Linked DNA regions of Homo sapiens: regions 2, 3, 4 and 5 are each reported to be linked to region 1. The links are microRNA targets in miRTarBase. Many come from high-throughput screens and were not tested one by one. Region 1 holds a microRNA gene; each other region holds the end of a gene's coding sequence.
The links. The annotated mature microRNA hsa-miR-5695 reads ACUCCAAGAAGAAUCUAGACAG and lies in region 1 at 3,481-3,502, opposite strand. An mRNA with a match to its seed (bases 2 to 7 or 8) in the 3' UTR can be bound and repressed. Matches are read on the target gene's strand: a 7mer-m8 pairs with bases 2 to 8, a 7mer-A1 pairs with bases 2 to 7 and ends in A, and an 8mer does both.

Region 1 (6,676 bases):
TGTGGGAGGCCAAGGCAGGAGGATCGCCTGAGCCAGGAGTTTGAGATCAGCCTGGGCAATAGAGCAAGTCTCCGCCTCTACAAAGAATAAAAACAGGCCAGGCGTGGTGGCACATGCCTGTAATCCAAGCACTGTGGGTGGCTGAAGCAGGTGCATCACCTGAGGACAGGAGTTCGAGGCCAGCCTGGCCAACATGGCGAAACCTCATCTCTACTAAAAATATAAAAATTAGCCTGGCGTGGTAGCAGGTGCCTGTAATCCCAGCTACTTAGGAGGCTGAGGCAGGAGAATCGTTTGAACCCAGGAGGCAGAGGTTGCAGTGAGCCAAGATCATGCCACTGCACTCTATTCTAGTCTAGACAACAGAGTGTGACTCTGTCTCCCGTCTCTACTAAAACTACAAAAATTAGCCAGGCACTGTTGCGTGCGTCTGTAGTCCTAGTCCTAGGTACTCAGGAGGCTGAGGTATGAGAATCACTTGAACCTGGGAGGCGGAGGTTGCAGTGAGCTGAGATTACGCCACTGCACTCCACCCTAGGTTACAGAGTGAGACTCTGTTTCAAAAAAACAAATGCACTCAGCAAAAGAAGACAGAAGTGTGTACCAGGGCAGTAAGTGGTATAGGGAGGGCTAAGGCAACTACGTGGTCAGTGAAGGCATCATGGAGGAAGAAGTGCCACCTAAGCAAAATCTAGAGGTAGATAAAGAGGTAAACCATGAGAGTATCTGGGGAAGGGTGTCCCAGGTAGTGGTCACAGTCAGTTCAAAGGCCCAGAGGTGGGAATGTGCTTTTTGTATTAGGAGAAGAGTGAGGAGGCTGGTGTGGCTGAAGGCGGAGGGTGAGAGGTGATAGAGCAGTTGGCGCAGGGCCCTGTGGGTCATGGGGAGAACTTGAACTTTTCCTCTGAAGAAGATGGGAGCCATGGAAATCTGAGCAGAAGGGTGCACGTGCTGACCTCATGATAAACTCTGTTCCCTCCCCCACAAGCCCAACGATGATCAAATATGGCATCAACAATATCCGGGAGCTGGTGGGCCACAAGGTGAACCTGCAGATGGTGTATGACAGTCCCCTGTGCCGCCTGGATGCCGAGCCGAGGCCCCCTCCCACACAGGAGGCTGCGTGACATGGGCCACTCTAGGACAGGTCATCCTCCCCGAGTCCCTGCTGCTGCGCTCCTTTGCATCCCTGGCCAGTGACCTTGTATTTATGAGGCCTCTGTGAGGCCAGCCCCCACCTTCCTCTTTCCCACCTGTCCCAGGACCAGAATCCCAGGGACAGAGGACTGGGTAGCAGGTTCCTTCTGTTGTCCTGTGTGGTGTGTCTACTGTGAGGGTGGGCCCTGAGGAGACCTGTGGGCCACCTATTGTCTAATAAAGTGGGCAGTTGCCCCCATCTGGTGGCTTTCCTTAGGGGTGAGGGGTCTTGTTGGGTCCCCCTAGCTCAGTGTGCCACTTGATGGTCAAAATTCTGGGTACTGGGCTGGGCGAGGTGGCCCGCGTCTGTAATCGCAGCACTTTGGGAGGCTGAGGCGGGCGGGTCACGAGGCCAGGCGATCGAGACCATCCTGGCTAACAGGGTGAAACCCCGTCTCTACTAAAAATACAAAAAAAAAAAAAAAAAGTATGGGTACTGAGCCAGGCACAGTGGCTCACTTCTGTAATCCCAGAACTTTTGGGAGGCCAAGGTGGGTGGGTCACTTGAGGTCAGGAATTCAGGAGCAGCCTGGCCAACGTGGTGAAACCCCATCTCTACTAAAAATAAAAAAATTAGGGCTGGGTGCGGTGGCTCATGCCTGTAATCCCAGCACTTTGGGAGGCTGAGGCGTGTGGATCATGAGGTCAAGAGATTGAGACCATCCTGGCCAACATGGTGAAACCCTGTCTACTAAAAATACAAAAAATTAGCCGGGCGTGGTGGCGGGTGCCTGTAGTCCCAGCTACTCAGGAGGCTGAGGCAGGAGAATGGTGTGAACCTGGGAGGCGGAGCTTGCAGTGAGCGGAGATCGCACCACTGCACTCCAGCCTGGGCAATAGAGCAAGACTCCGTCTCAAAAAAAAAAAAAAAAAAATTAGGCTGGGCGTGGTGGCTCACGCCTGTAATTCCAACACTTTGGGAAGCTGAGGCAGGCAGATCACTTGAGGTCAGGAGTTCGAGAGCAGCCTGGCCAACGTGGTGAAAACCCGTCTCTACTAAAAATACAAAAAAAAAGCTGGGCGTGGTGGTGAGCACCTGTAGTCCCAGCTACCCGGGAGGCTGAGGCACGAGAATCGTTTGAACCAGGAGGTGGAGGTTGCAGTGAGCCAAGATTGTGCCACTGCACTACAGCCTGGGTGACAGAAGAAGACTCTGTTCCAAAAAAAAAAACAAAAAACAAAAATTAGCAGGCATGATGGCAGGCACCTGTAGTCCCAGCTATCTGGGAGGCTGAGGTGGGAGAATCACTTGAACCCAGGAGGTGGAGGTTGTAGGGAGCTGAGATCACACCACTGCACTCCAGTCTGGGCCACAGAGTGAGACCTGTCCCCCAAAAACAGAAAACAAAAATTAGCTCAGCATAGTGGCTCATGCCTGTAATCCCAGGTACTCCAGAGACTGAGGTTGATCACTTGAGCCTGGGAGGTCGAGGCTGCAATGAGCCGTGATTACACCACTGCACTCCAGCCTGGGCAACAGAGTGAGACCCTGTCGTTAAATACATATTTATGTGTCTAAATAAACACAAGTACCCTGGAATCTTGCCATTTCCATCAAATCTGAACTTTGGCTGTGTAGGGGTGAAGAGAAAGCTTCCTTATTGCCCTCTGAAGTTTCACTAAAAATTACTGAGAAAAGGCAGATTAATAAGAGAAAAGGAATACGAATGTATTTGATCATAGTGTTACCTGACAAGCCTTCAGAATGAAGATCCAGAGATACAGGGGAAACTGTGTTTTTGTTTTGTTTTGTTTTGAGACGGAGTCTGGCTCTGTTCCCTGGGCTGGAGTGTAGGGGCGATCTTGGCTCACAGCAGCCTCAGCTTCCCAAGCAGCTGGGATTACAGGTGCCCGCCACCATGCCTGATTAATGAAAAGTGTCTTATGCTTAGGTTCAGCAAAGTTTGAACACCCAGGTAGAAATTTGATTGGACAAAAAGGGTTTGTCGTGGTTCATACTTGTAATCCTGACACTTTGGGAGGCTGAGGCGGGTGGATCACTTGAGGCCAGGAGTTTGAGACCAGCCTGAGCAACATGGAAAAACCCCATCTCTACTAAAAATACAAAAATTAGCTGGGCATGGTGCATCTGTAATCCCAGCTACTTGGTTGGCTGAGAATCGCTTGAACCTGGGAGGCCAAGGTTGCAGCGAGTTGAGATCTTGCCACTGCACTCCAGTGTTGCCTGGACAACAGAGCAAGACAAAAAAAAAAAAAAAAAAAAAAAGCCGGGGGGGTCGTCTAATACTAATAGGCTGAGTGGGGAAACCCAGCAAGGCCTATCTGTCTAGATTCTTCTTGGAGTCTCAGGAATGCATGCTCAGAGAGGCCAAGAAGAATCTAGATAGATAGGCCTTGTGTGGGGCAGAAACTTCTTTGAAACGGGGGTCTTATGACCTACAGTCAATAGGGTAGATCAGATAATTTCTTCTTTTTTTGAGACAGCACTTTGGGAGACCAAGACGGGAGGACGGCTTGAGCCCAGGAGTTGGGGATCAGCCTGGGCTCAGCACAGTGAGATCTCATTTCTACAGGAAAAAAAAATATAATTATGTGTGTGTGTGTGTGTGTGTGTGTGTGTATATATACATACAATCTTTTTTTTTTTTTTGAGACGGAGCTTTACTCTGTCACCCCGGCTGGAGTGCAGTGGCATGATCTCAGCTCACTGCAACCTCTGCGTCCTGGGTTTAAGCAATTCTCCTGCCCCAGCCTCCCGAGTAGCTGGGACTATAGGCGCCCGCCACCACGCCCGGCTATTTTTTGTATTTTTAGTAGAGACAGTTTCACCATGTTGGCTAGGCTGGTCTCGAACTCATGACCTCAGGTGATCCACCCGCCTCGGCCTCCCAAAGTGCTGGGATTACAGGCGTGAGCCACCGCGCCCGGCCAGAAAAATATTTTTAAATTAGAAGGGCCTGGTGAATGACACTGCTACTCAGGAGGCCGAGGCAGGAGGATCGCTTGAACCTGGGAGGTCGAGGCTACAGTGAGCTGTGATCGCACCACTGCACTCCAGCCTGGGCGACAGACCAAGATCTTGTCTCAAAAAAAAAAAAAAATTGTTATGGAGTATATTTTCCAAGGCAGAGTGGATGAAGTTAGAAGCACCGAATAAATACAGGACTCTGAGATCCGTATAACCTGGGCGCCCCGTGGAACCCAGGAGCCTCACAGGGGCACACAAGCGCACCCAGAGCGCGCCGTCCTGCTCCCAAGGGGCGCCGACTGCGCGCGCAGCCCGCGGACCGCGAAACTGCTGCTTAACGGTCGGCCCCGCCCAGTTGGCCGCGCAAGTTCTCAAAGAGGGCGGGGCCGGGAGCACGCGTCACAACACACTCGTCCGCGGGAGCGCAGCTGGCCAGGGGCGGGGTCGGCGCATGCGCAGAGGGTGCGAGCTTGAAGGCGGGAAAATACGGAATGGAGCGACAGGGAGTACGCGGCGCTTGTTTCCTTCTCGCGCGTGGGGCGGGCGGACAGATAGGCAGGGAACGGCTGCGATCCCAGCCATCTCCAGCGGACCCGAGCCCGGCCGCTTGTCCTTTGCCATTGGGGCTCCCTCTCATCAGGCCTGGCCTCAAATTTCCTGACTGACTGAACCCGGCCCTGACTGACGCACTGACGGGTCTGATTTCCACACATGGCGCGTGGCCGGAACGGAGTAGAGAAAGGCACAAACACCCACGCACCGCACCCGTTTCTTTCATTTCTTTTTTTTTTTTTTTTTGAGACGAAGTATCACTCTGTCGCCCAGTCTGGAGTGCAGTGGCGTGATCTCGGCTCACTGCAACCTCTGCCTCCCGGGTTCAAGTGATTCTCCTTCCTCAGCCTCCCGAGTAGCTGGGATTACAGGCACGCACCACCACGTCAGCTAATTTTTGTATTTTTAGTAGAGACGGGGTTTCACCATATTGCTCAGGCTGTTCTCGCACTCCTGACCTCGTGATCCGCCCGCCTCCGCCTCCCAAAGTGCTGGGATTACAGGCGTGAGCCACCGCGCCCGGCCTCATCTCTTTTCTCCTACCTCTTCTCCTTTCTCGAAGGACTCCAGCCAACACACATACCAGTTAGGAGCCCAGGTCCTCCAGTTACATTCCCACAGCCCTGCCCTCACCCGGCCCCTCTAGGTCTGGTGTCCTGGTGTCCCCTAGGGACAGAGTGTCCTTTCACCCCATGCCCCTGCCCTCATGGCACCTGCCCCAGCCCTGCCCGTCTTTCCTGCGGGTCCCCACCGTCCCGCAGCAGCACATCGAGGTGACCAGGGTTGAAGGGTCGGCAGGAGGGCGATCTGTTCACTCCTCATCCTCCCTCCTTGGCCTCCGTCCTGACTGTGCTTGCAGGTGGACGTGCCCCATGTGAAATGCAAAGACCAGGAACCGCAGCCCTTGGGGGAGAGCAAGGAGCATCCGCGGTGGGAAGAGAACTGCGAGGAGGAAGCTGGTGGAGGGCCAGCTAGGTGAGGAAGATCCCAGCCCTATGGGTCTACACAGGCCCCTGGGTCCCTCTCATTCACCCTTTTCTTCCACAAGGCTATGCCAGTGTCTGCTGCTTTTTTTTTCCCTCCTAACACAGCGTCTTGCTTTGTCACCACGCAGTGGCATGATCACGGCTCACTGCAACCTCCACCTCCCAGACTCAAGTGATCCTCCCACCTCAGCCTCCGAAATGGCTGGGACTAGAGGCGGGCCAGAATGTCGGGCCAATTTATTAAAAAATATTGGCCAGGTGCAGTGGTTCACACCTGTAATCCCAACACTTTGGGAGGCCAAGGCGGGTGGATCACCTAAGGTCGGGAGTTTGAGACCAGCCTGACAAACATGGAGAAACCCCGTCTCTACTAAAAATACAAAATTAGCTGGGCATAGTGGCACATGCCTGTAATCCCAGCTACTCAGGAGGCTGAGGCAGGAGAATCGCTTGAACCCAGGAGGTGGAGGTTGCAGTGAGCTGAGATGGCGCCATTGCACTCCAGCCTGGGCAAAAAGACCGAAACGCTGTCTCAAAAAAAAAAAAAAAAAGCCAGGAATGGTGGCTTATGCCTGTAATCCTAGCACTTTGGGAGGCCGAGGGGGGTGGATCAAAAGGTCAAGAGATGGAGACCATCCTGGCTAACATGATGAAACCCCGTCTCTACTAAAAATACAGAAGTTAGCTGGGTGTTGTGGTGCACGCCTGTAGTCCCAGCTACTCGGGAGGCTAAGGCAGGAGAATCGCTTGAACCCCAGAGGCAGAGGTTGTAGTGAGCCGAGATCATGCCACTGCATGCCAGCCTGGTGACAGAGTGAGACTCCGTCTCAAAAAAAAGAAAAAAGAAAAATTTAGTAGGCCGGGCACGGTGGCTTACGCCTGTAATCCCAGCACTTTGGGAGGCCAAGGCAGGCAGATCATGAGGTCAGGAGTTTGAGACTAGCCTGGCCAATATGGTGAAACCCTGTGTCTACAAAAATTAGCCAGGCATGGTGACAGACACTTGTAATCC
Region 2 (6,676 bases), not on the chromosome of region 1:
TGATGATAATTTCAAATAATTCCATAAGGCTTTTCCTTTGTTTTTTGCTGTAACGGATTTTCTTTATCATTATACCTTTCATTTATAACTGCTATTTTCAGATCTAAGAGCATATAAGGCCTTCAAGGCTTAAAACAATGCATTGTTTATAAAGTTGCCTTTGGGGGTTTTATTTTAAAATGTTTAACATTTATCTGATATCAAGTTAGTGTTAACCAACAAGTGTTAAACATATATATATATATTTATTATATATATATATATATATATATATATTTTCATTAGCAAGGCTTTCCCGCCGCCCCCCGACCCTTTTGTTTGTTTTCAAAACCTAATTTCTTCATTTTTTTCCTTCTTTAGGAGAAAGTGAGCCATGGTGTTTGCATGCCCCGAGGTTATCTTGAAGTGATACCAAATCCAAAGGACAATGAAATGAATAACATAAGAGCCACATGTTTTAATAGCGACATAGTCCTAATGCCAGAGTTATCAACCTTTAGAGTTTTGCCATGGGCTGACAGAACTGCAAGAGTGATATGTGATACCTTCACTGTGACTGGTGAGCCTCTTTTGACTTCCCCAAGGTACATTGCAAAGAGGCAGCTGAGCCATCTGCAGGCCTCTGGCTTTTCCCTGCTTTCTGCTTTCATCTATGATTTTTGCATTTTTGGTGTGCCCGAAATTTTAAATTCAAAGATTATATCTTTTCCTGCTTTAACATTTTTAAATAACCATGATCAGCCCTTCATGCAGGAACTTGTTGATGGCTTGTATCACACTGGAGCCAATGTCGAGAGTTTTTCCTCCTCTACCAGGCCTGGTCAGATGGAAATCTCTTTCCTGCCTGAATTTGGCATTAGCTCAGCTGATAATGCATTTACCCTCAGAACAGGTGTCAAAGAAGTGGCAAGGAAATATAATTACATTGCCAGCTTCTTCATTGAGACTGGATTTTGTGATTCAGGGATTTTGTCTCATAGTCTCTGGGATGTCGATAGGAAGAAAAACATGTTCTGCAGCACTTCTGGAACTGAGCAGCTCACGATCACTGGGAAAAAATGGTTGGCAGGACTCTTGAAGCACTCTGCTGCGCTCAGCTGCCTGATGGCGCCTTCTGTTAGCTGCCGAAAGCGTTATTCCAAGGACAGGAAAGACCTGAAGAAGAGTGTGCCTACAACATGGGGATACAATGACAACAGCTGTATATTTAATATCAAATGTCATGGAGAGAAAGGCACCCGGATAGAAAATAAACTAGGCTCAGCAACAGCAAACCCTTACTTGGTGCTGGCTGCAACTGTTGCTGCCGGCTTAGATGGACTTCATAGCAGTAATGAGGTCTTGGCTGGTCCAGATGAGAGCACAGACTTTTACCAAGTGGAACCTTCTGAGATCCCTTTAAAACTAGAAGATGCCCTTGTGGCACTGGAAGAAGATCAATGCCTGAGACAGGCTCTAGGAGAAACCTTTATTCGATATTTTGTTGCCATGAAGAAATATGAGTTGGAGAATGAAGAAATAGCTGCAGAGAGAAATAAATTCTTAGAGTATTTTATTTAGAATAGAGCTCACAACTACTCCTTTAGACATGTAATTGTTACTTAAAGCTAATCTACCAAAACAAAAAGACTGAACTTTTGTAATTAACAACAGCAACAATAACAAGATTACGAATGCTTTTGACTTTTTTTTTTGTCCATGGAATATTTGACAGATGAAGTAGGACTGCTGAGAAGATTCTGATAACAGAAACAAACAACAAAGTTGTGGTGAAGCTATAATATGCAAACTTACCAGATCTTGTCAGTCATTTCCTATGTGTATGTTGACCTGGATAAGAATATCCAATTTTGGGTGGCAATAAATATATTCGCACATTAAGAAAAAAAAGACTTAAGCATTAGAAAGCAAAATTTAAATGACTAAAAAAGAAAAAAAAGAAAAGGAGAAAAAATTTTAATGGTACACATAGGTTATGATTTCCAGGGAGACAAATATACTAATATAGTCTCGCTAATCAAATAATATTGTGAATCCAGGTTGTATGCACCATTATGGTCTTTCTAAACAAGTTAAATAAACTTTTGCCAAAATATAATGACAGGTAGGCAGTTTTCCCCTAAGTCTCTTCTCTTTTCACCCTTCTCCACTAGCTCCTGAAAAGCTTATGAACTTCAAGGTTATAATGTCCTCAAGAAACAAATCCCTAAGGAATAGAATTGGAGCTGAGAACAACGAGGTCAGATTTTAAAAGTAGTTAAAGCCTTTCTTTTAACAATGCCTCATATAGAAGTTCAATACACAAAGTATAGATAGAAAGATGTTTGTGTGTGAGGGTAGGTGGGCTCTGTCTACTCTGCTTCATTCTTTGAAACTAGATGTTCCTCTGAAACCTCTAGTGCTCTGTGGAGTGTGAGAACAACTGCCTGGCTAGCCAGGGCTATGTTTGGAGTTTAAGTTTGTTATTCAAATTACTGAATCTGCTGCTCACAGAGGTTGGTACCTCCCCAGAGAATATTACCTGTTCCAGGCCTTTGTTTGAATGAGATAATATTGTAACTATCACAAAAGTTTAGCTGCTTTTGGGAAGAAGTCCAAAATCCACTTACTAGCAAATGAAACATTATTCTACTGCTTAGGATCAAACAGCAGATTTTATGTTCAATTAAAACTGACTGTAGTCTCAATTTAGATAGCAATTGCACAAGCAGAGGATTAGAATTTGGCTCAGATCCTCTTATTAAAATTCATATTACTCAGTAGCTTAAATAGTGAAAGTCAGTCTATCCTTCACTAATTACTCCCTTCTTTTTTCCTTTGAGCAGGAGAAGTGTGTTTGGATACATAAGAAGAAAGTTCCCAGCACTTTGGGAGGCCAAGGCAGGAGGATTGCTTGAGGCCAGGAGTTTGAGTCCAGCCTGGACCACATAGTGAGACCCCTGTTTCTACAAAAAAAAAAAAAAAAATGCCTCGCATGGTGGCACATGCCTGTAGTCCCAGCTACGTGGGAGGCTGAGAAGGGAGGATCGCTTGAGCCTGGGAGTTTCAGGCTGCAGTGAGCCATAATCACACCACTGCACTCCAGCTTGGGTGACAGAGTGAGACACTGTCTTAAAAAAAAGAGAAGAATAAAATTCATGGATGCATATGGGGTAGAGAGAAAGATAGTGTAGGGTAGCTGGGGGAAGGAAGGGAACCTGTCCTGAAACCTCCAGAATGAAATCCCACACATTACATCATGGGAGGGATAAGGAAGACTCTCATGCCAATTTTCTAGCTGTCTGCTAGAAAATTCCCCTCTGTTCATTTTCCCCTCTGTTCTCAGTAATAAAACCTCAATATGTTCTTTGAAAGCAATGAAAAATGAAATGATATTTCTGAGCCTTCATTAAGGTTGGATGTGGTCATGTTATTAGGTTCAGTGCAAAGAGGTGAAAGTAGAAGTGTTGCATATAAGTTCTTTAGGACATTTTCTTTTCTTTTCTTGTATTTTTTTTTTTTTTCCGAGATGGAGTCTCGCTTTGTCACCCAGGCTGAAGTGCAATGTGGGGGGGTCTTGGCTCACTGCAACCTCTGCCCCCTGGGTTCAAGTAATTCTCCTGCCTCAGCCTCCCAAGTAGCTGGGATCCCAGGTGCCTGCTACCATGCCTGGCCTTTTAGTAGAGATGGGGTTTCACCATATTGGCCAGTCTGGTCTTGAACTCCTGAACTCAGGTGATCAGCCTGCCTTGGCCTCCCAAAGTGCTAGGATTACAGGCATGAGCCACCATGCCCTACCACACTTTAGAACATTTTTTTAAATGACGGATGCTGTGTGCTCTGCCCTTTCTTTCTCTTGCTGCCTTCACCCTTCCTGCTGAGTGGCCTACAGATAATGTGGCTAGGATTATGTCCTTGGGAAGGGAGGTTTGCTCCACAGGGTACAGTAATAAGGTGGAATCTCTGCTTTGTAGAGCAGTTTGACTTGCCTACATCCAGATGTTTACCTGAGAGAGAACCAAACTTCTATCTTCTTTAAGCCACAATGATTTTGATTCTTTGTTAGTTGCAATGAAATTTATTTTCTCTTTTCCATGTGTGTGTTGTATGTGTGTTTGTGTGTGAGTGTGTGCATATGAGTGGGGAATTTGAGGGATTTGGGGATGAAAGAACAAAGGTATAAGAACCAGTGAAAGACGACTTCCTCAATATTCCCACTTCTAGAGAGGATAATCTGAGTTAATCAAAGGGATCCACACATCCAAAAAATGGGATTGGCTCTAACCCATCCCTATAAAGTGGCATATCCCTTTATAGTCCACGGGCCTTAATGAAACATGTCTAATGCATTGACTTCATTTTACCATAATGAGTAAAGATGCTGTAAAAAGTCTGATAATCACAGTGTTTGAAGCCGTTTTTTCCCCTTTCGCATTATTAGCATAACTTAAAAACACAGTACTCAGGATGCCATGTGAAGGAATTATATAACTAGGAATATTATCTTCAGTATTAAGTGTACAGTCGTGAGTCAAAGAAAATATTCAGCCATAGATTACAAATCAGTTGATAACGTAAGTTGGTGTGGCAGTTTCCACCAAGATTTCAGTTAGGTGTGTGCTGATGTATATTCTTGTTCTTTAAGGCAACCCAAAAAGAGGCATTGGCCAGCAGAGTTCAGGGCCAAAGACAAATTGGGGTAGGTACATGTAAAAATCAGTTATCTATTTTTCTATTTCTTTCATCTGTTCATAGGCTTTCTATTGTTGAAAGGACTTTCTGCTGATGCTTCTACCTTCTTGGTCTGGGTTAAGAGGGTCAGACATTCATTCAGCAGCACTTATTGAGCACCATTTGTGTGCTAAGCCTTCAGCTGGGAGCCATCATACTAGGGGAGACCAAAACAAAGATGAGCAGACAATGAAAGAGTTTTGGATCTGTGTATCTTAAGCAGAACATAAATAATTTTTTTTGTAGACCTAATGCTGAAAAAAGCTATTTGGAAAGCTTCTTTATGGCTCGAAAAGGGTGCCTTATAAATAGCTTTACAAAAATTGCTTTCTTATTTTCATTTACTATAATTGTTCTAATCAAAGCTTAGGGGAAAAATGTGATTACTGAATTTAAAGTTGGTAATTAAATGAGTATACATAAGAAATGTAAATTAAAAGCGATAATATTTTAAGACTAGAAATTAAAACATTAGTATTGTAGTAACAAGTTTCTATTTTCAAGGACATTCTATAATCTAAAATTTCATTTTACAGTGTGTGAATAACAACAACGCTTGAAATGATTATTTGAAGGCAATGAAAGATCAAAAAACTTTAATCTGAATAAAAATTGAAAGCATACAGTGAAGTCTGAGCTTATCAGTAAAACAGAACAGTCTATTGACATATCTCCAGTCACCTGTTTGACAAAATACACTCACCAATATGTTTATGATATAGGTATGACTGGACAATACCTTTAACCTTGGGTTTTCTATGACAGGGGTAAGAATTTGTGTCTTTAAACATTACCTATGTGCACAGTGCCTTCCCTGTTAAAGCTCTTCTCATGCTGCCTATAATTAGGGGTTTACATGATACTTCCTAATTGCTAATTAGGATGTGAATTCTCAGAATAAAAGGTACAGATCTTACTTACATTTGCATTAATACTTCTTGTTCCTTGCATATGTTCTGGAATTCAATTAATGTTTAATCAATCAATGCATATGTTATTAGCATAGTACAATACTATGCTTGTCCAGTATAAAACACACAAATTCACCTACCCAGAGAGAGGGAGGAATAGAGACAGTGGAGAAGTCCAACAGTTTGTGTTTTTTTATTGATCCTGCAATTTCTGCCATTAGAACTTCTTCAGGTTTTCTGCTTCTAGAAACTCCTGAGTAAACACCATTTGATTAGCTTGATGGGGATCAAAAGAACAACAACAATAAAAACAAAAACAAAAAAGAGCAAGGTGAAGTTGTCATGCTTTTTAGCCATGTGGAACCTTTCAATAGCTCTCTTAGATTTGTGGAATCCCTCTTCTTTGGGCTCTTGTCTCAGAAAGTAGAAGTCAGAACCTCACCTTCCCAATTTCTCTTGCTGCCATTGAGAGGTGACAGCGTGCTGGCAGTCCTCACAGCCCTCGCTTGCTCTCGGCGCCTCCTCTGCCTGGGCTCCCACTTTGGCGGCACTTGAGGAGCCCTTCAGCCCGCCGCTGCACTGTGGGAGTCCCTTTCCGGGCTGGCCAAGGCCGGAGCCGGCTCCCTCAGCTTGCTGGGAGGTGTGGAGGGAGAGGCGCGGGCGGGAACCCGGGCTGCGCGCGGTGCTTGAGGGCCAGCGCGAGTTCTGGGTGGGAGTGGGCTCGGAGGACCCTGCACTCGGAGCGACCGATCGGCCGGGGTAGTGAGGGGCTTAGCACCTGGGCCAGCAGTTGCTGTGCTCAATTTCTTGCCTGGCCTTAGCTGCCTTGCCTCGGGGCAGGGCTCCGGATCTGCAGCCCACCATGCCCGAGCCTCCCCCTACTCCGTGGGCTCCTGTGCGGCCCCAGCCTCCCAGACGAGGGCCGCCCCCTGCTCCAAGGCGCCCAGTCCCATGGACCACCCAAGGGCTGAGGAGTGCCCGCTGGTGGCACAGGACTGGCAGGCAGCTCCACCTGCAGCCCCTGGTGCGGGATCCGCTGGGTGAAACCAGCTGGG
Region 3 (5,529 bases), not on the chromosome of region 1:
TCCTAAAATGTGTTTCATTCTAGTAAGAAAACCTCAAAGGATATTGTAGGATATAAATCTTACTTGAAAACATAGCTGTTGAAATGTTTTGGCCTTTTGGAGTGGGGGAAGGACAAATCTGATCCTGTAATCTTTTTCTTTCCAGTAATCCCTTGTGTCTGTTGCATGAGGACATGGACAATAAAGTAGTATATGATCCTCAGATACAGGGAGAAGGACAAGGCATACAGCTTATTGATTAGAGCTGGCAAGCATCTGCTCATTATGTTTGGAATTGCTTTCTATAAGAAAATTGCCCACTACTACTAACTTGATCAACAATGAATTCAAAATAGTTAACCTATGAAATAACATCCTCTCAAATGTTTGCTGATGAAGTACAAGTTGAAATGTAGTTATTGGAAAAGTCTGTAACCTGTGGATCATATATATTCAAAGTGAGACAAAGGCAAATAAAAAGCAGCTATTTTCATGAATAGACAAAGTTGATTTCAGGAAGTATAAATTATATTCTGCACCGAACAAGGAACAGAAATTATTGCATCTGTGGAACATATATCTGGAGTTACTATACTTTACTGAAGAGCAAGGCATAAATTTAGACTAAAATCCATCCAGATTACACTCATTCTTTAGGCTACTCCTGGATACTTCATTTAAATTTGATTTTCGAGGTAGTGAGATGTCGGCAAGGTTTGTCCTGTATATTAGGAATAAAGGAAAAGTTCTAAACTGCCTCTGCAATGACTTGTAGTCAGTGGAAGAGTATCACTTTCCCCTGATCATGACCACTAAACTGTAAATTGATATAAATTAGTTTTCTCTCGAGTTACACCCAAGTAATGAAGACTTAAGAGAACCTTGGTTGAAATAAATTTCCAATAGTTTGGAGACTCATAAATACCATGCAGGTGTAACCACTGCCAATAGGCTGTTTCTATGCTTATTTCCTATTTTGATTTTTACTTTGAAGATAGGAATATCTAAATTATATCTCTAGGGAGAAAATGTTGTAAAAAATTAAAAGTACATCCCTGATTGTAAAATAAAGTTCAAAAAACTGATTTCAGAAAGTCTCAACTACCAAATGTTTTCAATATATTAGTTTTGAGATGCTAGGATTATACTGTGATTCTTATGTTTATAGTAAAGTCTGGAAAGCAGAAGGATAGTTTTTTTAGCCTGGAAACTTATTTATGTTGCCTTGGTGAGTCTTCTATCATTTTTTAAAAATTTAGCTTATTGAACTGTAAAATAGCTTTTCTAGTATGAGAGATGTTTTGAATTTAAAAAATGAAATGCAGTTTTTCAAAAATAAATTTCCTTTGGAAATTCTTGCATATCAATTTAGTAAGGTTTTATAAAATTTTACAATTTGATAAAGTATCACATCTAGAATTCACTGTCTTCTTTTATCTGCTCTCAAGTTGGCATTGCATCACTGCCTGTGTCTTACACTGCACCAAATGTTACCTAATTGACCTAACTTTTTTTGTCTAATATCTTTCATTAAAAACAATTGGATTATTTAACCAGAAAAAAAATCTGGTAATAGAGATGTTGCTATCCTAGAATACTCTCTTGACAGTCTGTATGCCATGAAAACTTGCATAAGAAGGCAGCTGATTACGAAAAATTAATCATCATTGAATTTAGTATTACTAAACTCATAGCATTTGTCCAGATTTGTAAACACTATTGATTCTAATGTGAAAGATGGAAAAGCAGTCCCAGAATTGGCTTAGCACAGAGACTCTAAATGATAGTAAAACAACATATTCAACTTTAATTCCTGTCTTATTGTTAATGGGAAGTTAGTTATGGTTCTACTTAAATGTTGTAGAGAAAATAAGTATTACTAGTTTCTTCTCATAAAAATACTCCCTGGATACGTACACTGAACAACACAAAAAACGTAATGGCCACTTAAGAATATTTATTTATTTATTTATTTTTTTGAGACAGAGTCTCACTCTGTTGCCCAGGCTGGAGTGCAGTGGCACGATCTCAGCTCACCACATCCTCCGCCTCCCAGGTTCAAGCGATTCTCCTGCCTCAGCCTCCCAAGTAGCTGGGATTACAGGTGCCCGCCACCACGCATGGCTAATTTTTGTATTTTTAGTAGAGGCGAGGTTTCACCATGTTGGCCAGGCTGGTCTTGAACTCCTGACCTCAGGTGATCCACCCATCTTGGCCTCCCAAAGTGCTGGGATTATAGGTGTGAGCCACCACGCCCAGCCAAGAATATTTACTAAAGGAAGCTTTGACCCCTGCATCACATTTTTTTCATATTTCCCTTTCTGTAATCTCAGCACTTTGGGAGGCTGAGGTGGGTAGGTCAAGAGGTCAGGAGTTCGAGACCAGCCTGACCAACATGGCAAAACCCCGTCTCTACTAAAAATACAAAAATTAGCCGGGCGTGGTGGTGCGTGACTGTAATCCCAGCTACTTAGGAGGCTGAGGCAGGAGAATCGCTTGAACCTGGGAGGCAGAGGTTGCAGTGAGCTGAGATAGTGCCACTGCACTCCAGTCTGGAAAACAGAGTGAGACTCTGTCTCAAAAAAAAAGGTATTGATGAATAAAAATTATAACTAGAATAAGTACTCTAACAATTCAGATTTATAATTGAGTTGTCTGAAAGCTACCTTTTTCATTGTGAAAGTGCATATTAATGTGAAGAAAATATTCCTATTTGAGAACTTCAAATATGCATACACAAAGATGTTCCAGCTATTTTTATCTTCTTAAGTATGCATTCTACATGAGAACGTTTGGGTTGGTAGTAAAATAAATAGTAATATCAAAATAGTTTATTATGTTTAAATTTCATTCTTTTGGAATACATAATTTTGAGTGATCATGTCTCCAACTACAGTTATTCAGGCACAAATTTTGGAGGTACAAAGAATAAATAATATTCTTAAGGTAGTTTTTCCTTTTATCAGGGTTCTTCTAGAGTACTGGTCTCATTATTTTCTAAAGCAGTTTTTCTAAGGTGATAAACCGAACACATTACTTGCTATGTATTAAATGACTTGTACCACTAAATAATCAAATTCTAAGCTCTAACAGCTTAATTCTAAAATCATTGTCTGGTATATTTGTGTTTTCAATTACTTTGTGTCTTTCACAGCTGCCAAACCCAGAAAGGTATGTTATGGTTATAGTTTATCTTCTATTTTTCCCTCTTGAACTACTCCCAAAGGAGGAAGAAGGATGCTCATTATATACTGCCTCATTTCTTTTTAAATTACCACTATAGTGCCGTAGAGTTATACCACTGCTTCTCATACTTATGTGCACATTAGTCACCTTGGGATCTAGCTAAAATACAGATTCATTCAGTAGGTTTGGGGAGAGGCCTGAGAGTCTGAATTTTTAATAAGCTGCCAGGTGGTGGTGACAATGATTTGTGGACTACCCTGTGAATAGTAACTCGGCCTTAAGAGAACATTAACCAAAACCTTAAGCTGAGCAAACTACTGAGCAGCAAGTATTGACAACATTTCAAGGTTTTGTTTTTTGTTTTGTTTTGTTTTGAGATGGAGTCTCACTCGGGCTGGAGTGCAGTGGTGTGATCTCGGCTCACTGCAACCTCCGCCTCCCGGGTTCGAGTGATTCTCCTGCCTCAGCTTCCCAAGTAGCTGGGACTACAGGTGTGTGCCACCACGCCCAGCTAGTTTTTTGTATTTTTCAATAGAGATGGGGTTTCACCGTGTTAGCCAGGATGGTCTTGATCTCCTGACCTTATGATCCTCCCGCCTTGGCCTCTCAAAGTGCTAGGATTACAGGCATGAGACACCGCGCCCGGTCCATTTCAAGTTCTAAAAAAAGTTCAACGTATTTCTTTAAAAATCATGCAAAACAGCCCTCTTGTATAAACTAGAGTGGGGAAAAAAGAACTTGAAATTGCACTTTTATTTTAAAACAGTGAAGTGTGGCTATTACATATTTCACTTTTACAATCAATACATGTTAGGATCTTACAAGTATTAAATTGATGATTTTATTATATATAAATACACAAATGGTCCAAAACAATATCTAAAATGTTGCAATATTTATAAAATCCATAAAAATATTTAATTTTCAGTATGAAAATGGCATACTAATTTGAGTTTGAGGTAAATGAAGAGACAGATTTAGGCCATCTAAGAAGGAAGATAAAGGAGAATGTCATATCTATATTTTGGGAAAAGTCAAAGAATGCTAAAGAGCTTGACCTGTTACTGCATTAATGACTTCAGACATTATGCAGATACATATACTATATAGTAATAAATAATACACAATGTAGACAGAACAGAAAGCAGAGGGACTGGACCAATCTGCTCAAGGAAAAGGTAAAGAATTTTTTAAAGTGCAGCAATCAGGGATTCTTGTGACTAATGTGTTTCACTGAAGACAATTTGAATCGTTCATAAACATTAACCCTTTAATCCTTGAAACTTTCCTTTGAGGTAGAGAATTGGGCCAGACTACTGCTGAAAAGCAAGAGGAATGGCAAGGCTAAAGTAGCTCTTGAGAGCTCAAAAGAATCATGGAATTCTTTTTTTTTTTTTTTTTTTTTTTGAGACAGAGTCTCACCCTGTTGCCCAGGGTGGAATGAACTGGCACAATCTCAGCTCATAGCAACCTCCACTTGCTGAGTTCAAGCGATTCTCATGCCTCAGCCTCCTGAGTAGCTAGGATTACAGGCATGCGCCACCAGGTCCAGCTAATTTTTTTTTGTATTTTTAGTAGAGACAGGGTTTCACCATGTTGGCCAGGCTGGTCTCCAACTCCTGGCCTCAAGTGATCCTCCTGCATCACCCTCCCAAAGTGGTGGGATTACAGGCATGAGCCACCATGCCTGGCCAAGATTCATGGAATTTTTGAACTCCTTGTCTTAACTACTCTGCCAGCTCTTGTTGAACAAAGACCAATCCGCTCTTCATGATTTGCTCCTCATGTCTTCTTATAATTCTAATGTGTCTACATCCTTGGATACCATATAATAGGAAAATTCTTTTAAACAACTAAAACAGACATAATCACAATTCCAACTTAATGTAATCCAATACAACTTCATACAAATAGCAGTTAAATCACACGTAGTAAAATTTCGTACAACATTTTTTTAAAGTTTCAAATTCAAATGTTCCAAATGTTTAATTATTTTGTCTTAAGGTACATTTGCAAAGAATTCTAACTGCTGCTATTACCTTTGTCCTTGCTGAAGGAAAACATTAGGAGAATGAGCTGTTTTTAAGCTAAACGTGTCTCCACTTGATGAATGGCGTGAAGGAGCTTTTCCACCCAAGAGTGATGTTTCTGCTTCTTTTATTTCCATTGCCCTTTTGTATAATTCAGCAGCTTTTTCAAAATCTCCTCCTTCATAGCTTTGAGAGAGAAAACAAAAACTCTTAAAATGAGAATATAACCTCTTACCAATTCAAAATGACCTTATGGGATACAGAAAAAGAAGCTGTAAATATTTGCCCATTTCCCCTCTTTTTCCAGTGTATTCACTCAAGCAGACCAGTAAAA
Region 4 (6,676 bases), not on the chromosome of region 1:
AAAGTGTCACCATTTGAGGAAACAGACCCAGAGAGGGAGAGACTCTGGCAGGACTTCACGGTGGTCTGAACTTGGGCTTCAGGTTTCAGTTGTGGGGCCTCTGCTCTTTCCCAGGGCTGGCTGCTGCTCTTGCTCCTGCACCATTTCACTAAGAACCATCTCCTTCCTCTGGGCAGATGCTGACCTTCATCATGGTTGCCCGGCTGGCCACCCTGTGTCCTGCACCTGTCCTGCAGAGGGTGGACCGACTCATTGAGCCACTAAGGGCCACCTGCACTGCCAAGGTAAGTCCCTGGCCCAGCCCTAGCCCAGGCCCTGGAGCACCTATGGAGTCCTCGGCCAGTCGTTCAGTTACCCTTACTGAGCACTTCCTGCAGTGCAGGTGATGTTGTGAAAGTGCTTCATTTAATCATTGTCATTGCCCTATAAAGTACCTCTTATTATCATTGTATACACAGGGGAACAGAGGCTTTGAGAAGTTGTTATTGGCCAAGGCTACACAGCTAGTAAATTGCAGAGCTGGATTCAGACCCACCTCTGTCTCTCCTTCCATTCATTAAACACTTCCTGGGTGCTGAGCCTCGTGGGAGATACTAAAGATGTAACATTGAGCCTGATAGGTTCCCTACTGTCAATCTCTCACCTCCTTGTTGGGAAGCTGGGTCAGATGACTGGTCTAGGACAAAGCTGCTGCTAGACTGGAGTGCCTGAAGGGTCTGGAGGAGGGATGTGGGGTGCAAGCCCTCATGGAAAGCTGGCGTTGGGAGCAGAGCCTGGCGCACCTACGTGGTACCTAGTAAATACCTGTTGAATGAAAGAATACATTTGGGTTTTTTAAGGATGGGAATCATTACCAAAAGGAGAGCAGTGTTTTAGGTTGGCACTTAAAGAGGAGAGATACCCATAAAGTGGTGATTTTCAAAAATGAAATCTTCTGTGGATAAAACACTAAAATTGGTAGTTTATTCATAGAAACCTGCCTTGTAAGTTTACATTTTTAACATATGCTTATTATTGAGTCCATCCAAAAAAACACTTCTACAGGGCCAGGCCAGTTTTGACAGTCTCTCATTTCTGGTTTTCTCTGAGCTCTATGGCACCAAGAAAAGTCCCAGTTCTTAAGAGGGAGGTATATATGGCACTGCAGTGCCAGAACATTCTTGCAGTAAAGCCGAGGTGGCAAGAGAAGCTCTGCCCTGAGTTTCCACAAGAGCCACTCATCTGGCCACGCGGAGGATGCTGTCTGTTGGGCATTGGGATGAGCATGGGTAAATCCACACCCACAGTCCTTACCCATGACCCTGAAATCTACCAAGCTCTGACAACCAAAAGCTTTTTAGGAACCTGTTTGTCACACAACTTGACTTGAAGTGGCATGAGGCTATGATCTTTAATTCTTACCAATGTACCACTTTTATATAAGGGACTTGATCATCTGAGGATTTTGGCATCCCCTGGGATCCTGGAACCAAACTCCCATGGATACTGAGGGACACCTGTACTACTCACATTACTCATACATGTAGTAGAGTATTCATGTATTTGATTACAGGGTATTGTACAAAACCCCTCGGGAATGTTATCTGCACAGTATTACCTTTCTAAAACCCAAAATGTCTTGGATTCCAAAGCACATCTGGCTCCAGGGGTTTCAGAGAAGGGAGTGTGGACTTGTGTCGTTTAATCCTCTTGGCAACTCTTACGACGAGGCAGCTCTTACTTATAGATGGGGAAATGAGGCTCAAAGATGTAGTTACCTGAAGTCACAGCTCTTGGGGGCAGAGCCATTTGAACACAGGACTCTGCAACTCCAATGCCAAGCTGTTACCCACTGCATTGAATTCTTTAGGAAGAGCCCAGCATAATAAGGAACTTGAACTTTAGTCCATAAGCAGTGGAGGAATTACTGAGCTCCTCTGCCTAGGTAGGAGATGGTGGGGGAAGAGGAAACAGAAACTGCAGGAGGTAGTTTGGGGTGCTTACACTCCGGCTGCATCTGCAAAACTGATTGCGGGGCAGGGACTTGAGTATGGGGAGGAGGCTGCTAGAAGACCATCGCAGTGATCCATTCATTCAGTCTAGTCATATGGTGCTAAGAGCTGGTTTTAAGCACAGCAAATATAGGCTGGATCCCTGCAGTCTGTAGGAGGTAAGTATGGGAACACAGTACTTGCCACTGTCAATTAACAAAAAGCGAGCACTTCAGATTGGCTGCTCAGAGGCCCCTCAGGCTGTACTCAAGCTGATTTGAATGGCAAAGAACCTCTGTGGGGAAACTAGCCAGTGCAAAAGCCCAGAGGTGGAGTTAGGAAATAGCTGGTGAGACAGAAGCCTCAGGAGACCTCGCAGCAGGGATTTATGTTGGGGAAGATGATGGGGCAGAGAGGAAGCCAAAGACCAGTGAGGAGGCAGTGGTGTGGGCCAGGCTCAATAAAGGATGGCTGCTTCTGCTGTTTCCTACTTTAGGTCAAAGCTGGTTCTGTGAAGCAGGAGTTTGAAAAGCAAGATGAACTGAAGCGCTCTGCAATGAGGGCAGTGGCTGCCCTGCTGACCATCCCCGAGGTGGGGAAAAGCCCCATCATGGCCGACTTCTCTTCCCAAATCAGATCCAACCCTGAACTTGCTGCCCTCTTTGAAAGCATCCAGAAGGATTCCGCTTCAGCCCCCAGCACAGACTCAATGGAGCTCAGCTAGTCCCCTCAGCACCAAGGTGGGCCCTCGCTTAAGAGAAAGGAGCCCACCCAAGTCCGAGGCCTCCCCATCCCACCATCGCAGGTCTCTACTTTTGCCCTTCCACCATCTCACTGGGGGCCCTGTCGCTCCTGGTCAGGGCTTACAGTGCCTTCTCCAGGGACCCAACTCAAAGGCCCCCAGCCCAAGCTGTGAGGCTGCCAACAGTTGGGCCCCTTCCTTAACTCAGGACAGTCATCCAAAGAAATAGGGTGAGGAAGTTTTCCAGTGACTTCACACTGTACCCCTCCATAGTCTGTCTGGTTCCTTCAGAGGGTGTCTCTGCCTCACAAACTAGTAGTATTTAGAAATAGGCTGTGCTGTCAGCTGTAAAAGATCAGGAGGCAGCAGACACCACTCTGGTTTCTTCACTGCATTCAGCAATGCCTGAAGTTAGTGCTCAGGCCGGGCATCTCAAAAGAAAAGATACTTGAGTTATTCACATTTTAAAATTCAAAACGGTTCATTTTTAAGTGGCAGTGATGAATCAGAAATTTGGAAGATGATACGGGTTTCTTTTTTCCAGGGAGGAGGAATGGGTTGGGTAGGGAACTGGACAGGCTTGGACCTCATGTTTCATTTCTAATTTCAAAATACTTATTAGCAAATTGGGCAACAATGGGCATCTTCCATGCCACCACCCAGGCATAACCAGTTGGTTTGTTTCCTTCTGAGGAAGGTTTCAAATGTGTCTAGTGTTCAGTATTGAGGACAAAGAAATACAAGTGGCAGGCCCAAGTATTTTCTGTGATATCCCAGGTTAATAAAGATTAGATTCTAAGTTACTTCTTTCCTCTGCACGACTCGTCTCCAATTGTTAATCGAATCGCCTGAACCCAGGAGGCAGAAGTTGCAGGGAGCCAAGATCAAGCCACTGCACTCCAGCCGGGGTGACAGAATGAGTCTCAAAAACAAAATCCCAAAAATGACCAGTTTGCATTATAAATATTTATGACTAGGTTTTGAACAGGAGACAATCTGTAAGATTCCTGTCTAGACTAGAAGTAGAAAAGCTTTATTATACCCAGCGCAGCATTTCTGCTAAGTTGACCAGGATGGTTACAGAAAAACATCCTGTAAGCATTTCTGTCTCATAAGTACCACATCCCATATCCCTCATGACCTATATACTACAGAAGATGCCTGTAATCCCAGTACTTTGGGAGGCTGAAGCAGGATTGCTTGAGCTCAGGAGTTCGGGAGCCTAGGCAACATGGCTAGACCACCTCTACAAAAAAACTTCAAAAACTACCCAGGTTTGGAGGTGTGCATCTGTAGTCCCAGCTACTTGGAAGGCTGAGGTGGGAAGATCACCTGAGCCTGGGGAGGTCAAGGCTGTAGTCAGTGTGCCACTGCACTCCCAGCCTGGGTGAGAGCAAGACCCCGTCTCCAAAAAAAATCAGGACCACGTGTCACTAAATTCTGAGTACCAGTCAAGAGGCTCAATTGTCACCAGTTAGGTCCCCGCCTTGGCAAACTGCTGTAACATTATACCTGAAGCAGCAGCTGGTGGGAGGGTTATAGGAGACTGAAAGTGCTTTTCCAGTTAACCGTGGTGGATTACCTGGAAGAGCAATTTGTACATCATCCTGTTCTTTTTGGACAGAAGTTACAGGATGCAATTTAGGCATCCCGTAAGAATCTGTGTAAGAAATTCATCTGGATATTTCCATGCATATTTTCTCAATTCTCACAAGCATCACATGGAATAACTTGTCACCTAACTTTACAAAAGCAAGGCTAAGAATGACTACTTGTGGCTTGGGAGCCACAAGCTTCTTCAAGTGTCTCAGAACCTACCTGGTGTGAGGGCCAAGTCTGTACCCCTCATACCCAGCCTCAACTGGAGATGACTAAGGCTAGTCTGTGCACTTGAGGCCACATTCCCCTGTTCAAGGACTGAGTGTCCTTTACAAATCCCCTCCAAATGGGAGATTCCAAAGGGGCTTAAGCAAAAGAACAATCTCTGTGGCAAACTAAGTTGGCCAAGAAGCTGAAGACTTAAAATCAAGGAAGGAAGATGCCAGATGGCAGTTTTTACATTTATTTAAACAGAAAACGTGCACATGAGCTGCCTACTCATTTTCTTCACTGCGCAGCCTGGCATTGGGGTTGGTGACTCTGATGGCCAGTTGGGCAGCTCTTTCCACGATGGCTTTGCGGTTCTTGGAGGAAACATTGTGAGCGATCTCGGCACAGTAAGATCTGCAAGAGAATCAAGTAGGTAAGGAGCAAGACAGCCCTCAACACACTTGGAAAATTCCATTGGAGAGGCAATGAGTCCCAGCACCAAGCTAAGAGAGGGCTGCTTGGTAAGTGGCTGTGGAATGACACCTACATGCCCCCAAATCCTGACTATGGTTCCCTGGTGGTGACAAGAATGCTTTCATTAAAAAGTACCCTCATTGTCCCCTCTCATCCTTATAGCAGCCTTGTAATCCAGGCATTACCTCCATTTTACAGATAAAGAAACCAAGGCCCACAGCAAGCAATGGACAGGGATCCGGGGCGAACCCAGGCCCACACTCCAGGTTCAAAGGTTCTCCCCCAGTCACAGGGTGCTTGACCTTGCCCATGAAGGTTCAGAACTCTTTGCAAAATGGTCAAGAGCAGAACCCAAGAGTCTGAATGGAGCCAAGAGCACCTGGTTTGACTGCTGAGGATACAAAGCAAGTTGAGAAGCAACAATGCTTAAAGTCACCCAGTCATAGCCATGCCTATTACCTGAGGACTTCAGATCCAGTTCTAACTCATTCCTCACAACTTTTTAAGAGGCAGCTACACTGTGCCCCATTTGATAACCAATAGGCCTAACAAGCACACTTCAGTAAGGAGGTGATTTATGAAGCCACCCACAGTGGTTAAGAACAGACATTCCACCCCTAAAGCATTTTCAGCAAAGAGAGAAGCAGCAGGACTGTGAGGAGTGATTGAGGCAGTGGACACACAGCTCTTTTCAAGAACCCTGCCTTAACAGCAAGACAGCAAATCCAGACAATTCTTGTTTTATATGAGTCCACTCAAATTCAAAGCAATTGTATTTTTAAATGTTTCTACGTTTTAAAGACTTAGGTTATATTACACTTCTCATCTGTCTTTACTTTTCAAAAAACCCTCCTGTCCTTGTCCATCTATATATTTGATAATCACAATCAGAGTGTACCCACCATTTTAAATGTGTCCCCCCTGGCTTGGGCATTTTCCACACTACAACACTCGAATCATTTTGAGTGGACCCACAACATTTTATCCAGCACTCTACAATTCTCTCATTATATTTTCAGTTGTTTCCAGTGGGTTATTGCTGCAATGACTAGCTTTAGTTTGCCTGCTTTTCCATTCCTTAAGGACAAATGCCCAGAAATGGAACTTAGAGATCAAACGTCAAAGAGTATTTCTATGGATCTTAAAGACTGCCAAGCTGCGCTTACAGAGCATATGCCAACCAGCCAACATGTGCACTGCAACTGAGTAATCATGTTGGCCATACAACAGGTATTGCCTGTTACAGTTCAACTCATACAGCCAACTGTGGTTTCAGTATCCACCATTAATTCCTTCGCCCATCTTTTCTAACAGAAATTTTCAGCATTTCAACGCCTGGTTAAATTTCCAATCTTGGAAGGTAACCACGTTAGAATACTGGTCTTGTTCATTTTTATTACTTGTATCTACAACCACTGTAGGTGAAAGTTATCTTTGTAAACGTAAACACAAACATCCTAGTTAGTCACACACACTCCATGTTCTTTCTAGTTTACTTAGGAAAATTCAGCTTTTTGGCTTTCATTTACCAGTAAGTGAAGAAAATAAACTGTCACTTCCCATGAGAATTTTTCATTCCACTGCCCTAGTTTTAATCTAAGCAGGTCACTGAGTCTTTTATACACAAAGCTCACCAAGTGTCTAACTTACTCAAAACACCTAGAACTAGCTGGGTGTGGTG
Region 5 (6,676 bases), not on the chromosome of region 1:
TTAATTTTACTCTTTAATTTTTTTTGGAGACAAGGTCTTGTTCTGTCACCCAGGCTAGAGTGCAGTGGCTTGATCATAGCCCACAGCAGCCTCAAACTCCCAGGCTCAAGCCATCCTCCCACCTCAGCCTCCCAAATAGCTGGGACTATAGTTGTGCACCATTATGCACAGCTAATTTATTTTTATTTTTTTAGAGATGGGGTCTTGCTATGTTGCCCAGGCTGGTCTCAAATTCCTGGCTTCAAGCAATCCTCCCACCTCAGCCTCCCAAAGCACTGGGATTACAAGCATGAGCCACCACATCTAAGTGAGATTTAATTTTTTTTTTTTTTTTTGAGATGGACTCTTGCTCTGTTGCCTAGGCTGGAGTGCAGTGGTGCAATCATGCCTCACTGCAACCCCCACCTCCCGGGTTCAAGTGATTCTCCTGCCTCAGCCTCCTGAGTAGCTAGGATTACAGGCGTGCACCACCACACCTGGCTAATTTTTGTATTTTTAGTAGAGATGGGGTTTCACCATGTTGGCCAGGCTGGTCTCAAACTCCTGACCTTGTGATCTGCCCACCTCAGCCTCCTAAAGTGCTGGGATTACAGGCGTGAGCCACTGCGCCCGGCCGGTGAGAATTAATTTTAAGAATGGTGTTTGGTGGGTGGAGGGAGTCTCATAAAGAAGGTAGTACTTGACCAGAGACTTGAAGCTGTGGGAGGGATGAACCACCTGGAGATCTTGGGGTGCCCAAACAGGGGAACAAGGAGCATGGGGTCCTTTCCTTTACCCCCACCTTAGGATGAGTCTCAGGTTTCCCGTGCCTGCTTTGTTTCCTTGCTCTGCAGTATTGAATGCAAAGGCCAGTGGAGCAGAGTGCTCTGTTGGGATGATGATCATGCATGTATATGGCTTTGCAGAGGGGCAGGTGTGGATGGAGAAGATGGACAGTGTTAGTTGGGTCTTGCCCAAGGTTTGAGGAGCTATTGCATCTCATCCTCACAGTAGCGCCAGAAAGGCAGACTGATGACCTCATTTTACAGTTGAGGAAACTGAGGTCTATGAGCTGAGTCGATTGCCTAAGGCGGCACTGCAAATGACAGAGCTAGGATTCCAGCCAGGCTCATCTGCCCCCAAAGCGCATGCCTACAGGACAAGACTTCACTGCTTCCTCTGTGTCATTGTACAGTGGAGTGATGCTTTGGAAACCGAAATGAGAAGTGAATTGAATAACTTAAGCCAGAAGACCTGTCAAGGCCCTGGGCGAGTGTCCCCGGATATAGTGAACAAGGCCCAGTGACCCTGAGGCGGGTAGCACTCAGGCTGCATAGTGTGTGCATGAGTGAGTGACTTCATCTGCCACAAGAGGTGACACTGCTTTTCAGTAGAGGTGGTAAAGAGGCTTTCATGAATGATAATAAAGAAAGTTTATTCTTGTGTTCTCTTTAGCTTTTTGCCCCTCAAGACAGGACTGCTTATAGCTGACTATTTGGGCATCCTTCATGCAATGGATGGCTTTGTTGACCAAAAGAAGAAGCTCTAAAGACCAACTCTATGGCTAAGGTCATCTGATACACAGTGTTACATAATGCGTACTTCAATGAAGAAAAGTATTTTTGTCTGACAGTGGAATATATCTGGAGACCACAAGTACCACTCCTATTCTGTTATCTGGACTAGAATTTTCAATCAATGTGTTTGAAAATAATGTTGCTATCACCTATTTGGTTGAGTTTTGGTTTTTTCTTTTTCTTTTTTTTTCCAAAAATAAAGACAGCCCATTTTTGTCATTTCCATTACCACAGATGTAAGAAAGTGATAAGCCATGGCCATGAGCTGCCCTGAGCTTTGGTCGTTGGGGAGGTGGCTCAAATGGAGCCAGCGGCTGTGGTTGACCTGCCTTGGGGAGCAGGGCTGAGGGGCGAAGAGGACATGTGGATATCCAGCCAGAATGCCCTCTCTCCAGAGGACACACAGCTCTGGATTTCTACCCCCTTGCTATCCTCTCTGGCCATTTTGAACCTGTACCACCTAATGTAGAAAAGGCCCGCCTCCAGTGCCCTTCTTTCCAAAACAGCTACACAAATGCTTCTGAATGCCCTGGATACGCAGACCGAGTGGCAGTCTGGCTAAAGGCCCATCCAGCACTATTGTGCCCAAGAGCCTTACCGGGCATTCCCTGAAGCCCCCTCATAGGCAGTGATCCTAGACCAAACTCTTAAATAGAATCACTTTTGTTTCCTAGAAGAGATCAAAGAGTGGTTGCTTCTTACTTTGAAGATGAAATTATACCAAGTTAGGTTTTTTGCTATCTATTGATCCAAAAAATATATTCGTGCAATTAAAGTTAAGTGTTCAACTTAGTATTTCAAGTTGGGATTCAGGTTGAGGCATTTTCCTGCAGAATGGGCAATTTTATGCATTTATATTCATCAGTGCTGCCCTCACTTTGGATCTATTGTATTCTTACAGTTTAATCAACTGGCAAAGTGCTTTCATGCTTTGGAGATTAACTATAAAAGCAAGATTAAGAAAAATATGTTAATTACCATATCCCTGGAACTCCTTCTCAGGCTGGTGGGGGCAGCCTTGCAAGAGAAACAGCAGCCTTTGTCTCTTCCCTCTTGTGGGGAGCAAGGAGGGGATGAGCGGTACCTTGGGAGACCCGGTAAAAGTCTAAAGAATTGAGAATTTGACTATCTTGGGGGTAAAATGCTGTCATAGGGGCAGCAGTCTCAGGGGGTGTAAACTCTGGAATCCACTATGGTTTACCTTGAGTGGCCTGCACGAACATGACAGCCCTGATCTGTATTTCCTTTCCATTCAGAAAACCTTAAAAAAAAAAAACTTGTTTTATGATAATATTATAACAATCATAACTAACATTTACTGTGCCCGGCAGCAAATTAAGTATTTGACAAACATTATTTCATTAAACGAGACTGTCAATCATTACTCAAAGAATGATGAAGGTATTTGGTGTATGCCAAAGAATAAAGGCGTTTTATTTCACAGTGACATCTTATTCCACTGTAGATGTATACTGAGAGGATCAAAGGCCCTCTCAGAGTCACCCACTGATGTTCCAAATCCTTGGTTAACAAGGTTAATTAAGAGAGAAGCACAATATTGCTGTAATATTACAATTCCAGAAGCGTATCTTCTAGGGTCCTGTCTATTTAGTTAAAGAATAAAGCTCAGACTCTTCGGGGATTCAGTACAACAAAGGTCCAGGAGCACTGCAGGCATCCTCCACATCATAACAGCATTAATAGCAATTATTTCTAATTGGAGTGCATCTTGGCTGGACTGCGACAAAGGCCTGAAATTCAATTGTGGTTTTAAAATACCCATAAAATTGTCTAAACAAATTCAGATTTACTTGAGATGCTTCTATGAGAAGAGACCACATGTAAATTAGTGGATTCTAGAGGGCACTAAATAACAAGGTGATTTAATGCCCTGGGGAGCAAGGAGTGCTCTTGGCATGTGTGTCATGCCCGTTTCCATCAAAATTTAGTCCTAATGAAGCCATGACCAAGAGCCCAACACCTAAGCCAGGCTGAGGAAACAGAAGGACACAGGGCCAGGGCTGTGCCCCATGCCTGGGCATTCTGCCCTGCAGGGCGCATCTTCCAGCATCTTGTACTCACTGAGCTGCTCCAAAGCAGAGAAGAATTCTTGGTGTAAGATGGAGTTTTGCTGGGTAAAAATGTGTGTCATGCCGTGTGTGTGTGTGTGTGTGTGTGTGTGTGTGTGTGTGGTTTTACATTGTGATGCTGTCTTAGTCCATTAGGGCCACCATAACAAAATGCCACAAATTGAGTACTTTAAACAACAGAAATTTAATTCTCAGAATTCTGGAAGCTAGGAGTTCAAGATCAAGGTGCCAGCTGGTTCATTTTCTGGTGAGGGCTCTCTTGCTGGCTTGTGGAGAACTTCTTGCTGTGTCTTCACAGAGTCTTTCCTTGGTGTGTGTGTGTGGAGAGAGAGAGAGAAAGACATATTTCTTCTTCTAAGGACACCAGTTCCATCATAAGGGCTCTACTTTCTTGACCTCATCTAACCCTAATTACCTCCCAAAGTCCCACATCATCCCATATGAATTTTGGGGTAACACAGACATGCAGTCCATAACAGATGCCAAGATAGAAAAAAACCAGACCACAAATGACATTTACACTCCTTAGAGTCCTCATGCTGAGATGGTCACAGTTCATCAGATGAAATAATTCTGAATCTTGGAGGCAGAGTGAATTGAGAATGCCTGAAAGAAATTAATTCCAACCTGCCAGAGTCAGCACTTGAGAAAAATATGACTGAAAATCTGGGCCACCAGACAAAAACTGTTGTGAAGCCAGACGTCCCATGCAGAGCAGCTCTGGGACGAACATGTCTGGTGCTAGGCACCCTCAACATTCCAGGCTCATGAACCATGTTGGACCGGGAGCAGGGCTCACATATGTAATTCCAGCTCTTTGGGAGGCCAAGGCAGGAGGATAGCTTGAGGCCAGGAATTCAAGACCAGCCTGGGCAACACAGCAAGACCCTGTTTCTACAAAAAATTTAAATATTAGCCCGATGTGGTGGTGCACACTTGTAGTCCCAGCTACTCAGGAGGCTAAGGTAGGAGGATTGCTGGAGCCCAGGAGTTCAAGGCAGCAGTGAGCTATGATCACACCACTGTACCCCAACCTGGGTGACAGAGTGAGACTTTGTCTCTAAAATATTAAATAAAAAATAAGTAAAATGCAGCCTCAGGTAATTTGTCCATCTCTTTGATTCACATTGGCTTCTAAGCCCCCCAGCTTTCATGTCTACCATGTCATGGTGATTTTTATGGAAAGATCCCCAGGGATTTCATTCCTCATGAGATTTTATTTCTCATGACTGACATTATTAATCTCTCAAGCAGGTGGTCCTGGTGACACTTCTACCTACTGGTCTCTTCTGCTGTTCACTCCTTAAATTGTTTGTGTTCTTCAAGTTTCTATCTTTGGATTTCTTTGACTTTGTAGATTCCTTCTGAGGACTCTTAACCATGCCCATTGCTCCTCCACACCATCCAAGCTAGAAACCCAGGTATAATGCTCTACTTTTACTTTATCTGTCATCTCCTTGTCCAATCAGTAATTAAATCCAGTCTGTGCTACCTCTCGACCTCATTAGCATGTTGTCCTCACCATCCCAACTGCTATTGCCTTAGTTCAGACTCTCATTGTCAGTTCCCTGCCGGGGCAATAGTTTCCTGGCCACTCTTTCTGCATCAAGGCTTGCTTGCTCTGTCAGCGAGGATTTCATTCAGCTGGGGTAACTGAAAACTCCAGTGTAATAAGGGCTTGAAGAAAGTAGAAGTGTGTTTCTCCGTTATGTTTAAAAGCCTTGGGGTAGCCATTAAGGGTTGGTAGGGTGCTCCACAGAGTCAGGGACCCAAGCTCCTTCTGTGCATTTGCTCGGCTATGCAGGCTCACGTCCTGAACATCAGTGATAAGTGTGATCTACAGTGACCACTGAAACCTCAGCCATTATGCTCACATTCCAGGCCGCAAGACCCCAGAGGGCATAAGGCACCCCTGCACTCTTTCAGTACAATCTGTGGGCATTGCACACCCCAAAACACCACATCCTATTGGTCAGATTTCATCACATGACTAAAGCAGCCCTCAAATGATGCTGAGAAATATGGTCTTTATTTTGCACCACCCTGAGCCACCTAAACACCAGGGATCCTATTACTGTGGGAAAAGATAAGATCCAGATGTTGGATGTTAACTTAAAAGTTTCTGCCACAGTCTTCCCCATACATTTATGTATTCTCTTCTAATCAGACAGAACGCACAGACCCTCTCCACTGTAAAGATCTGCCCAGTCACTGCAGGTCACTAGAAGTCCAGAACCTATGGCGCTAGGCAGCACCCTCCATCAGATCCTAATATGACTCTTCATGGCCGAATGACCAAGAAGAGACAAGGTGAGTGATTCACCCCCATCTCACTCTACATACAGTGGTGCAGAGAAGCAGAATAGCCATGATTAGAGTCAGAAATGAGAAGGAAAGGAGACAGGAGGAGAAAGAAAGGGAGGGGAAGGAAGGGGAGGAGAGGGGTAAAAAAAAGAAAAGAGAAGGGGAGGGGAAGGAAAAGACGAGAAGAGAGGAGGGGATTCGAGGGAAGGGGAGAAGAGAAGGGGAAGAGGGAGGGGAGCAGAATGAGGGGAGGCCAGGAGACTTTCCATTCAAAACCAGGAAGGGGACAGAAGAAACACAGTGATGGTCCACAGTGATGGGATTTTGCTGGGCAGGAATCACAAGTGCTTCCTTTCTCAGGCAGCCCTGCTTGCTTCTACTCTGTGATATGCCATCTTGTCCATTGTCCTCCATGAACCTAGAGGGTTCTTTGTTGTTTAACATTTTCCCCGCAGCTGAGGTGAGCTTTGCAGACTATATTCTCTCTCAAGGCTACACAGATTGTATAGTCTCAAACTAGAGGGAAGAAGAATTATAGCCTGTGTCAAGGCTGTCTTCACTTTTGCAATACAATTGGCTCCAATAACTCAATTGGCTTCTTGTGTATTTATTTCATCCTCCTCATTGGCCGTTTAAACCACTGCCACAGATCTTGCTTGGACGAAGCTTTAAGACTGAAAGCTGCTCTGTAACTGGCACCTGTGCTCTGCCCATGCCTGCCTCTGT

Region 2: miRTarBase lists LGSN as a target of hsa-miR-5695. The part of its 3' UTR that is shown has no 7-base or 8-base seed match.
Region 3: the mRNA of NPHP3 is a reported target of hsa-miR-5695. Seed matches in the 3' UTR shown: 7mer-A1 at 4,775-4,781.
Region 4: the mRNA of RPL32 is a reported target of hsa-miR-5695. Seed matches in the 3' UTR shown: 7mer-A1 at 4,117-4,123 and 7mer-A1 at 3,538-3,544.
Region 5: miRTarBase lists SDR16C5 as a target of hsa-miR-5695. Seed matches in the 3' UTR shown: 7mer-A1 at 2,488-2,494.

The regions. Positions count from the first base shown.
Region 1 is chr19:12,917,199-12,923,874 of GRCh38, reverse strand. MIR5695 (microRNA 5695) reads right to left here and starts at 3,555; the gene lies at 3,471-3,555. SYCE2 (synaptonemal complex central element protein 2) reads left to right here and starts at 4,582. Exons shown (of 6, transcript NM_001105578.2): 1 at 4,582-4,632; 2 at 5,538-5,653. The coding sequence starts at 4,618. It overlaps FARSA (phenylalanyl-tRNA synthetase subunit alpha), which reads left to right. Exons shown (of 13, transcript NM_004461.3): 13 at 989-1,396. The coding sequence ends at 1,127. RefSeq lists an enhancer at 4,763-4,902.
Region 2 is chr6:63,274,905-63,281,580 of GRCh38, reverse strand. LGSN (lengsin, lens protein with glutamine synthetase domain) reads left to right here. Exons shown (of 4, transcript NM_016571.3): 4 at 361-5,630. The coding sequence ends at 1,560. Among named protein-coding and RNA genes, the nearest start is that of LGSN, 42 kb to the left of the region's middle.
Region 3 is chr3:132,676,710-132,682,238 of GRCh38, forward strand. It overlaps NPHP3 (nephrocystin 3), which reads right to left. Exons shown (of 27, transcript NM_153240.5): 27 at 3,900-5,381. The coding sequence ends at 5,201. UBA5 (ubiquitin like modifier activating enzyme 5) reads left to right here. Exons shown (of 12, transcript NM_024818.6): 12 at 1-3,085. NPHP3-ACAD11 (NPHP3-ACAD11 readthrough (NMD candidate)) reads right to left here. Exons shown (of 45, transcript NR_037804.1): 26 at 5,205-5,381. Among named protein-coding and RNA genes, the nearest start is that of UBA5, 19 kb to the left of the region's middle.
Region 4 is chr3:12,831,289-12,837,964 of GRCh38, forward strand. It overlaps RPL32 (ribosomal protein L32), which reads right to left. Exons shown (of 4, transcript NM_000994.4): 4 at 3,197-4,935. The coding sequence ends at 4,806. It overlaps CAND2 (cullin associated and neddylation dissociated 2 (putative)), which reads left to right. Exons shown (of 15, transcript NM_001162499.2): 14 at 177-284; 15 at 2,467-3,515. The coding sequence ends at 2,694. Among named protein-coding and RNA genes, the nearest start is that of SNORA7A, 5.8 kb to the right of the region's middle.
Region 5 is chr8:56,296,332-56,303,007 of GRCh38, reverse strand. It overlaps SDR16C5 (short chain dehydrogenase/reductase family 16C member 5), which reads left to right. Exons shown (of 7, transcript NM_138969.4): 7 at 1,435-3,003. The coding sequence ends at 1,528. Among named protein-coding and RNA genes, the nearest start is that of SDR16C5, 21 kb to the left of the region's middle. RefSeq lists an enhancer at 6,628-6,676.